Homo sapiens: one gene and its partner. The protein of the gene in region 1 interacts with the protein of each later gene in a biochemical or structural test. Each region holds a gene or a part of one and is shown in the gene's direction. Other genes may lie near its edges.

Region 1 (3,919 bases):
AAAGAGAGACAGGGACGGTTAGTGCAGCTGGAGGGGCTTTACACGCCTGGGCAAACACCTGGGCATGGTGTCTCCTCGGGGCTCTACCCATCCAGGATCTTCCTCCCGGGTGTGGCAGCAACATGTGACCTTAGAGGGGCCTGAGCAGACCAGGAGGCCCTTCTCCCTTCACTCTTTCCTCTCCTTGTCTTTCTCTTAAATTCTCAAACACCCTGCCACCTGCAGCACACGGAGGCAATAAGAAGGCATGACACTTCCTGCATCCCTTCCTGCGTACCTGCTTACCCACAGCCTTTGCTCATGGCAGCTGGGGGACCCAGAGACTAGGCAGGGCAGAAATGAGGAGTGGGCTGTGCCCAGTGCCTGGTATCAGCCTCCCTGCATGATGTCAGCCTTATAGACTCCTCTCCTCCCCAGCCATCCCCCTCAGCAGCCCCCCAGCTCCCCAGGCCAGGGGCCCTCTTCACAAAATGGCCTCTGTCATTCTTCCTTAGGGTAGGACTTTGAAAAGAAGCCTCCCACTCCCCCGCAGATGCAGACATAACATAGATATACAGACCTCCAAAACCATGGTGATGAGCATGACTTCTGGGTCAGGCAAGCCTGGTCCACATCCTAGCTCTGCCCTCTAACTCACTCTCCTGTCTCTGAGCACATTTGTTTATCCTCTTCGAGCCTCCGTTCCTTATCTGTAAATTGGGGTTAATATATTTACCATGAAAGGAATAATGAAATATACTTTGTGGTAGGGATTAAATGAAGTCATATACAGGAGGCACTTTGGCTGACACAAGGTGAACGTTCACTGAGTGGCAGAAGTTATTGTCGATCCCACCACCATTTACAGTTGGCTTCACCTTCTTGATTTTGTTTTGCAAAATCAGGGGAGTAGGTGTCCATTGTATTTTTGAAGTTTTATAAACAAGGAGACTGAGGCTTTTTTGACCACAGACTCAGGGGCACATGAGTTTGGGGAGGCACATGAGCATATTGATATACAGATTTAAGTCACAAACCATAAAAACTTGCTTATAAACACATGCACACATGGACACATGCCCTTTAACAGCTGGCTCAGCAGGCACCTTAACAGCTTTATTGTCATTTGTCCCATATATGAGGGACGAGCTCATATATGAGGGATGAGCTCACGGAGGATGGGCAGAGAGTTTGGAAAATTCAGAGAAAGGTAGACTGCTGGCAGAGGTGACAGATGGGTAGTCTTTGCATGAACAAAGGGGCAGGAGGCATTCCCAGGGTAGAGGAAGCTGATGCCTTCCCAGCGGAGGGGCTTCACACACCCGGGCACACACCTGGGCATGTTGTCTGCTCGGGGCTCTGCCCATCCAGGATCTTCCTCCTGGGTGTGGCAGCAACATGTGACTTTAGAGGGGCCTGAGCAGACCAGGAGGCCCTGAGCAGCAGCTCTTTATTCATTTCTCTCCACCTTTCTCTACTTTTCAAGCTGCTCCCCATCCCCATCCTCAAACCTGTCCCCATCTGGCATTGGAACCAGATACACCACAGAACAAGGAGGAAGAGCCAGGGATTCAGAGGATAATTAGCCAGGCAGGAGTTGGAGCCACTGCTACTCTCGTCCAGGCAGTAAGGCTAATACATTCCATACCTCACACATGCCCTGCACATCATAGTCTATGTATAGTATCTCATCTGACCTTCATGAGGCTCTAGTGAGTATGGTTATGTCTTGGTTTCTTCTCTGATGAAGAAACTGAGACTCAGTGATTTTAGGAACTCATCCGAGATCACACAGCAGGTAAACAAAGGTGCCAGGATTTGAAACCAGGCAGTCTGAATCTAAGTTTTATTCTTTTTCCACTATACCACTAGGCACACATGAGTTGAACAGAATGCTAAGACAGGTTTCGAGTAGTTTCTACTGGAAACCCCAGCATAGAGACCTTCATTGTGTAAATTCTAGAACAGCCCTGTCCACCACTGGGCACCGTGGGTCTCCCAAGATCTCCTCTTGAGTGTTCCCTCTGCACACTCCTCTCGAGTGTTCCCTCTGGACCCTCCTCTGGGTCTTTCTTGTCTTTCCCAGAAAGAAGCAAACAAAATCTTTTATCGGTGGAGCACGCTGGCTCATGCTTGTAATCCCAGCACTTTGGGAAGCTGAGGTAGGAGGACTGCTTGAGCCCAGGAGTTTCAGACCAGCCTGGGCAACATAGCGAAACCTCGTCTCTACAAAAAATAGAAATTAGCCAAGCATGATGGTGTGTACCTGTAGTTTCTGATACTTGGGAAGCCGAGGTGGGAGGATTGCTTGAGCCCAGGAGTTCCTTTCTCATTTATGGTTGATGAACACTGGGGGGACCAGAAAAATTATAATCAAAATCCTTCTGCCTTTATTTCATCAGTATCCATTCATTAATTCAGCAAATATCCCTGAGCACCTGTGATCACCCAAGCCCTGGGCTAGACATTGAAGTGTTGATGGTATATCAGAAGCAGCCGCTACCCTCAGGGAACTTACAGTCTGGTTTGTCTTAGAAGCCTATGGAGATAGGGGAGGGAGAGCCCCCCTTGTTTGCAACATCATACATCGGTCAATTGAATTCTTTAAACATTTAGCAAGAGCCTACTTGGTCACATTCTAGGCACTGGTGACCATATAAATATTAGTGAGACAGGGTTGCTGTTTTTCCAGGGGATCACAGTTTTGGTTGGGGCAGGGTTCGATAACTGTTATAAGTAAACAAAATCCAAGGCGCTAAGAGCTCTGAGTGACTGGTGGGGGCCACCATGGTGGGGGTGGGCTACAGCATGGAAAGCCTTGTGCATCAACTGGGATTTGAACAGGATAGGAAGCACTTCAATAGAAGCTGTGGGAGAAGGGCATGCCATATGGAAAGCACTGCAATGCAGGTCTTGGCTTGAGGACCCTGAACAGGAGGCCGAAATGCTTGGAACTTATGCCCTAGGCAGTTGTAGCCATTGAAGGTGCTTGAGCAGGGGAGTGGCACATACTTAGCTGTGCTGAAGGGAAAAATAACCTGCTAGCAGTGTGACATGGAGGTTACTGTAATAGGCCAGCCCATCTGTCTGCTCCAGGGCAGAGGAGCAGACAGGAGGAAGGATGGGAGAAGTGCTATGGAGGTAGCCACCTTTCCGAGCCAGACTCCCAAGACTATGAGCTGTACTCAGGGCCTGAGATAGCCCAGCCCTTTCTTAAGTTTGAGGCTTCCATCTGTAGTGTGCAGCTCTGAGCAACTGTAGGGGTATGGAGCCAGGCACAGTGGTTCACGCCTGTAATCCCAGCACTTTGGGAGGCTGAGGCAGGTGGATCACCTGAGAGGTCAGGAGTTCGAGACCAGTCTGGCCAACATGGTGAAACCCCTACTCTCTACTAAAAATACAAAAATTAGCTGGGAGCAGTGGTGGGCGCCTATAATCCCAGCTACTTGGGAGGCTGGGGCAGGAGAATCGCTTGAACCCAGGAGGTGGAGGTTACAGTGAGCTGAGATGGCACCACTGCACTCCAGCCTGGGCGACAGAGTGACACTCCATCTCAAAAACAAACAAACAAACAAACAATAAACCAGTAGGGGCATGGAGTACCAGAAAATATTATAGGCCAGGAAAGAAAAGCAGACAAGGACTGGGAAAGATGTGTGAGCTGAGGACCTAGAGGAAGCCACCACAAGAGCAATGAAGACAGTGGTTGTAGATTAGGGGGTAGGGTGGTACCGCCTACCTAGAGGCGCACATGCAGGTGGAAGGATGCTTCCAGAGGCAGGAGTTTTGGTCTTCAGGGAAGTGTTAGCCACACCCTGCACTGACTTTGCTCTGCTTTCTCCCACAGTCCCCCCAGAGGACACCAGGATTGACGGAGGCCCTGTGATTCTACTGCAGGCAGGCACCCCCCACAACCTCACATGCCGGGCCTTCAATGCGA
Region 2 (3,919 bases), on another chromosome or scaffold:
TTGGGCAACAGAGTGAGACTCTGTCTCAAAAAAAAAAAAAAAAAAAAAGGCTGGGCGCAGTGGCTCACGCCTGTACTCCCAGCACTTTGGGAGGCCGAGGTGGGTGGATCATGAGGTCAGGAGATCGAGACCATCCTGGCTAATATGGTGAAACCCTGTCTCTACTAAAAATACAAAAAATTACCTGGGCATGGTGGCAGGTGCCTGTAGTCCCAGCTACTCTGGAGGCTGAGGCAGGAGAATGGCATGAACCCGGGAGGCGGAGCTTGCAATGAGCCGAGATCGCGCCACTGCACTCCAGTCTGGGCGACAGAGCCAGACTCATCTCAAAAAAAAAAAGGAGTATATTTAGGTCTAAAAAGTAAGTTGTTTTGCCAGGGAATCAATCAAAATGCATGTTTGCTTTCTGTGTTAATTTGTTTTTCTAGAAAGAAGACTTAGCTTATTTGTGATGTATAACTTTAGGGTGTAGAACATTGCCTTGCATGCAGTAGGGGCTCAGTAATTGTTGAGTGAATGAAGCTCAAAACAGGGCATGGTATACTAGGTGCATCCACCACCCTTCTTTTCATTAACACAGCTCTGGAAGGAACCTGTATTACCTGGTCATTGTTTTCACAGGGATATATTGTGAAACAGATGACATCTGTCTTTGTGAATTTACTCAGAACTCAGTTTGATTTTACTCCCTGCTGCTGTGAGAGAGAAAAGTATAGTTTGGGCTGGATACCAGTATACTTTTTTTTCCTTTGTAGTGTGAAATTGAAACTCTTTATAATTGTGCTGCATTTTCCCATATAGGTATTTAATGGTTAGAGAAATGGAAAGGAGAATAAGGGTCATGGAAGATAACTAAGAGGGTAGTTGTTTCTGTAAGTTTCCCTTGTAATGCTTTTTCATACTCTTGTCCAATGAGTACAACTTCATCAACTGGAAAATAGCTTAAAATATAGGATTCTGTCCTGCATTTCAAAACCATTTACTGTTTGTCACTAAATAAGACTGCCTTCAGGCATTTCTTTCTTTCAGTAAATACAGGAGTAGCAAAATTTTCTTCCTTCAGATGATGTGTGCTTATGCTTCACTTAAAAACACACCTCAGAAATGGTGAGAATTAGATATGGAAAATAATCTTTGTTAGCACAGGACAGATGCCCCAGGAAGCAAGCAGATATTACCCAGTCTAACAGTTCCATAGAGCTGGATTAGAACTGGAAAGGTTAGGAGACAGTAGCTTAGACATTCACCTCCAAAGTAAATTAGAAGTTTCCAGGATTCTAAAACAGTGCAAGAAGAGCAGTGTCCCTCCAGGGCTGTGCACATGTCTCAGTCCAGAGATTGAGTCAACTTCTTCAGGACAACCAGGGATTTTTTGTTATCAAATCTACCTTTCAGGACTCAACTCACTATGTGAGACTTCCAGGTCTCAATAAATGATGGTGGTTTGTAGCTTTTAAAGAACTAAATGTGAGAGACTGATGTTCAGTTGTTTTTGTGTTTGTGAGACATCATTAGATGAGAGAGAGCCTGAGCATCAAGCATGCAGCTTCACCAGTAAGACTCCACCACCACAGGGCCCAGCTTACGATTGGAGATGGAGGAGGTCTTGCTAGAAAGGAACATGTGAAGCCTGGCCAGGTTTCAAGCCAGGCATATTTCTATCTCTCCATTTACCATTCCCCTCCCAGGGGCTCAATGTAGCTCTTCTGTTGTGTTACTTTTTCCTGTGTCTTCACTTGCAGAATTTCTTTGCCCAGCCTTTTTTTTTTTTTTTTTAATGGGACATGTCACTCCCACTTATTCAGAACCTGCTAATTATCCTTGATCACCACTCTTTGATTTGATAAATTTCTTTGCTCACTATTAGCAGCTGCAACAGAGGTGGAGAAGGAGCAAAGTTCAAACACATTGCTTTTCACTGCAGTAACAGTTAAAGTACATGAAGGATGGGCCAGCAGACGGGACATAACTAAGTGATTGTGTTTTATTTATCTTCAATTTCCTTGGCCAAATGAGAGTTAGTGATATGTTCCTTTATAGACCAAATTATGGTGAAATGGTGGATGTTGGTTGATATTTTTAAATGACATTTGAGTTCCATTTGCTGCAAATTTACTTAGTTAGATTGACCATTTTCTTTCATTTTTCTATTGCGCTTGCTTTGCCATCACCTAGATTTCTTGGCTCTTACACTAGCTATGACTACTTGAAAAGGAACGTCAAGTGGTAAGACTGGCAATTAATGTGAGGCTGTTCCATAAGGTGTCCCTCACTGTGTCACTGGCATTATGTGCACTTTCAGATTTTAATGTCATCATCAAGGGCTTAGTCTAAATTCATGAAAGCAAGATAAAAAAGCCAATCATAAGACTTCTTCAATGAAAATTTATGAAAATGACCAGGAGTATTCCAAATGTATATGTTATTGTTGGTGCACATAAAGCTAGTGCAGCTTTGGCATTCAGCAGTAAGGTTTAGATGGCAATGTTGCAATTATGGGTCTTTTAAAAAGATTTGTGTGAATTTTGTGTTACATATTAACAATTGGCAATCTGAAAAAATAAACATACATGGCACAATTTGACTTAAATGAACCTTGTAAAATAAAGCAGGATCTGCTGCTCTAGCAGTCATTTAACCAAAAAATGGACCTGGTAACTCAAGGGGAAATTTTAAAGTAAAAGCTCCAGTTTTTTTAGTTTTACTGAAACGCAGATATGCCCATTGTCTGTGGCTGCTTCAAGGCTATAACCGCATAATTTGAATAGTTCTAACAAAGACTGTATGGGCCAAAAGACCACAAACATTTACTCTCTGGTGTTTCAGTGAAAAAGTTTGCCAACCCCTAGTCTGTGACATCTGTTTTTATGGTGCTCCGAGTATGCCAGATGCCAGATACAAAATCAGAAGTGGGTCTAGGGCCGGGTGCGGTGGCTCATGCCTGTAATCCCAGCACTTTTAAGAAGCAGAGGCAGGCGGCTCACTTGAGGTCAGGAGTTCAAGACCAGCCTGGACAACGTGGTGAAACGCCATCTCTACTAAAAGTACAAAAATTAGCCAGGCGTGGTGGCTGGCATCTGTAATCCCAGCTACTCGGGAGGCTGAGGCAGAAGAATCACTTGAGCCTGGGAGGCAGAGGTTGTGGTAAACTGAGATCGCGCCACTGCACTCCAGTCTGGGCGACAGAATGAGACCCTGTCTCAAAAACAAAAAAAGTGGGTCTCAGGAAAATTTGTGCCATGATATGTTTTCAGAATATTTGCAAGACTTTCTTAAATCTGTCAACATTACTATCTTTTGTAAATAACAATTAAACTATACCCAAAATTTCACCTGCCTTTGGTTGCCATCTTCTGGATGTTTTACTAATATTCTTAAAGTTTTTGTGTGTCTGGACATTTCTTGTGCCGATGAATGGTCGAATCTGTTTTTATATTTTGGTAGAGTAGCTACCCATACTCATGAGAATAAATTGTGAAATTTCTAGTTTTTTTTTTTAACTTAGAGATACATGGAGAAATGAGAACTTGTTTTGTAAATGTGAGTCCATTTTCAGGTGTTGGCATTTTCTTCATTTGTTAACAGGGGAAAGCCTCCTGAAGCTGATGGTGTGGATAGATCATTTGGCGAGAAACGCTATGAACCCATCCAGGCCACTCCCCCTCCTCCTCCATTGCCCTCGCAGTATGCCCAGCCATCTCAGCCTGTCACCAGCGCGTCTCTCCACATACATTCTAAGGGAGCACATGGTGAAGGTAGGAAGTTCGGAAGTAGACATTTTAACACAGTAATGCTTATGAAGTAAAATTCTGGTGGTTTCTAGGCAAAATGGTTTTTACATTAAAAAATACATGCTTGAAACCTTTGGGCTGGGAACAGTAAAAACTAAGAATTTTGTTAAAAGTATGTCTCCTGTTTT

What was found.
Region 2: the proteins of KIRREL1 (region 1) and TJP1 form a complex in vitro, tested with the Homo sapiens proteins (3 studies listed by BioGRID and IntAct, with this or other methods).

Annotation. Positions count from the first base shown.
Region 1 is NC_000001.11:158,080,596-158,084,514, forward strand, and holds part of KIRREL1 (kin of IRRE-like protein 1 isoform 1 precursor), read left to right. Parts: intron 1-3,826; coding exon 3,827-3,919. UniProt on the Homo sapiens protein: Required for proper function of the glomerular filtration barrier. It is involved in the maintenance of a stable podocyte architecture with interdigitating foot processes connected by specialized cell-cell junctions, known as the slit diaphragm.
Region 2 is NC_000015.10:29,710,667-29,714,585, reverse strand, and holds part of TJP1 (tight junction protein 1), read left to right. Parts: intron 1-2,175; coding exon of another isoform or gene 2,176-2,226; intron 2,227-3,585; coding exon 3,586-3,755; intron 3,756-3,919. UniProt on the Homo sapiens protein: TJP1, TJP2, and TJP3 are closely related scaffolding proteins that link tight junction (TJ) transmembrane proteins such as claudins, junctional adhesion molecules, and occludin to the actin cytoskeleton.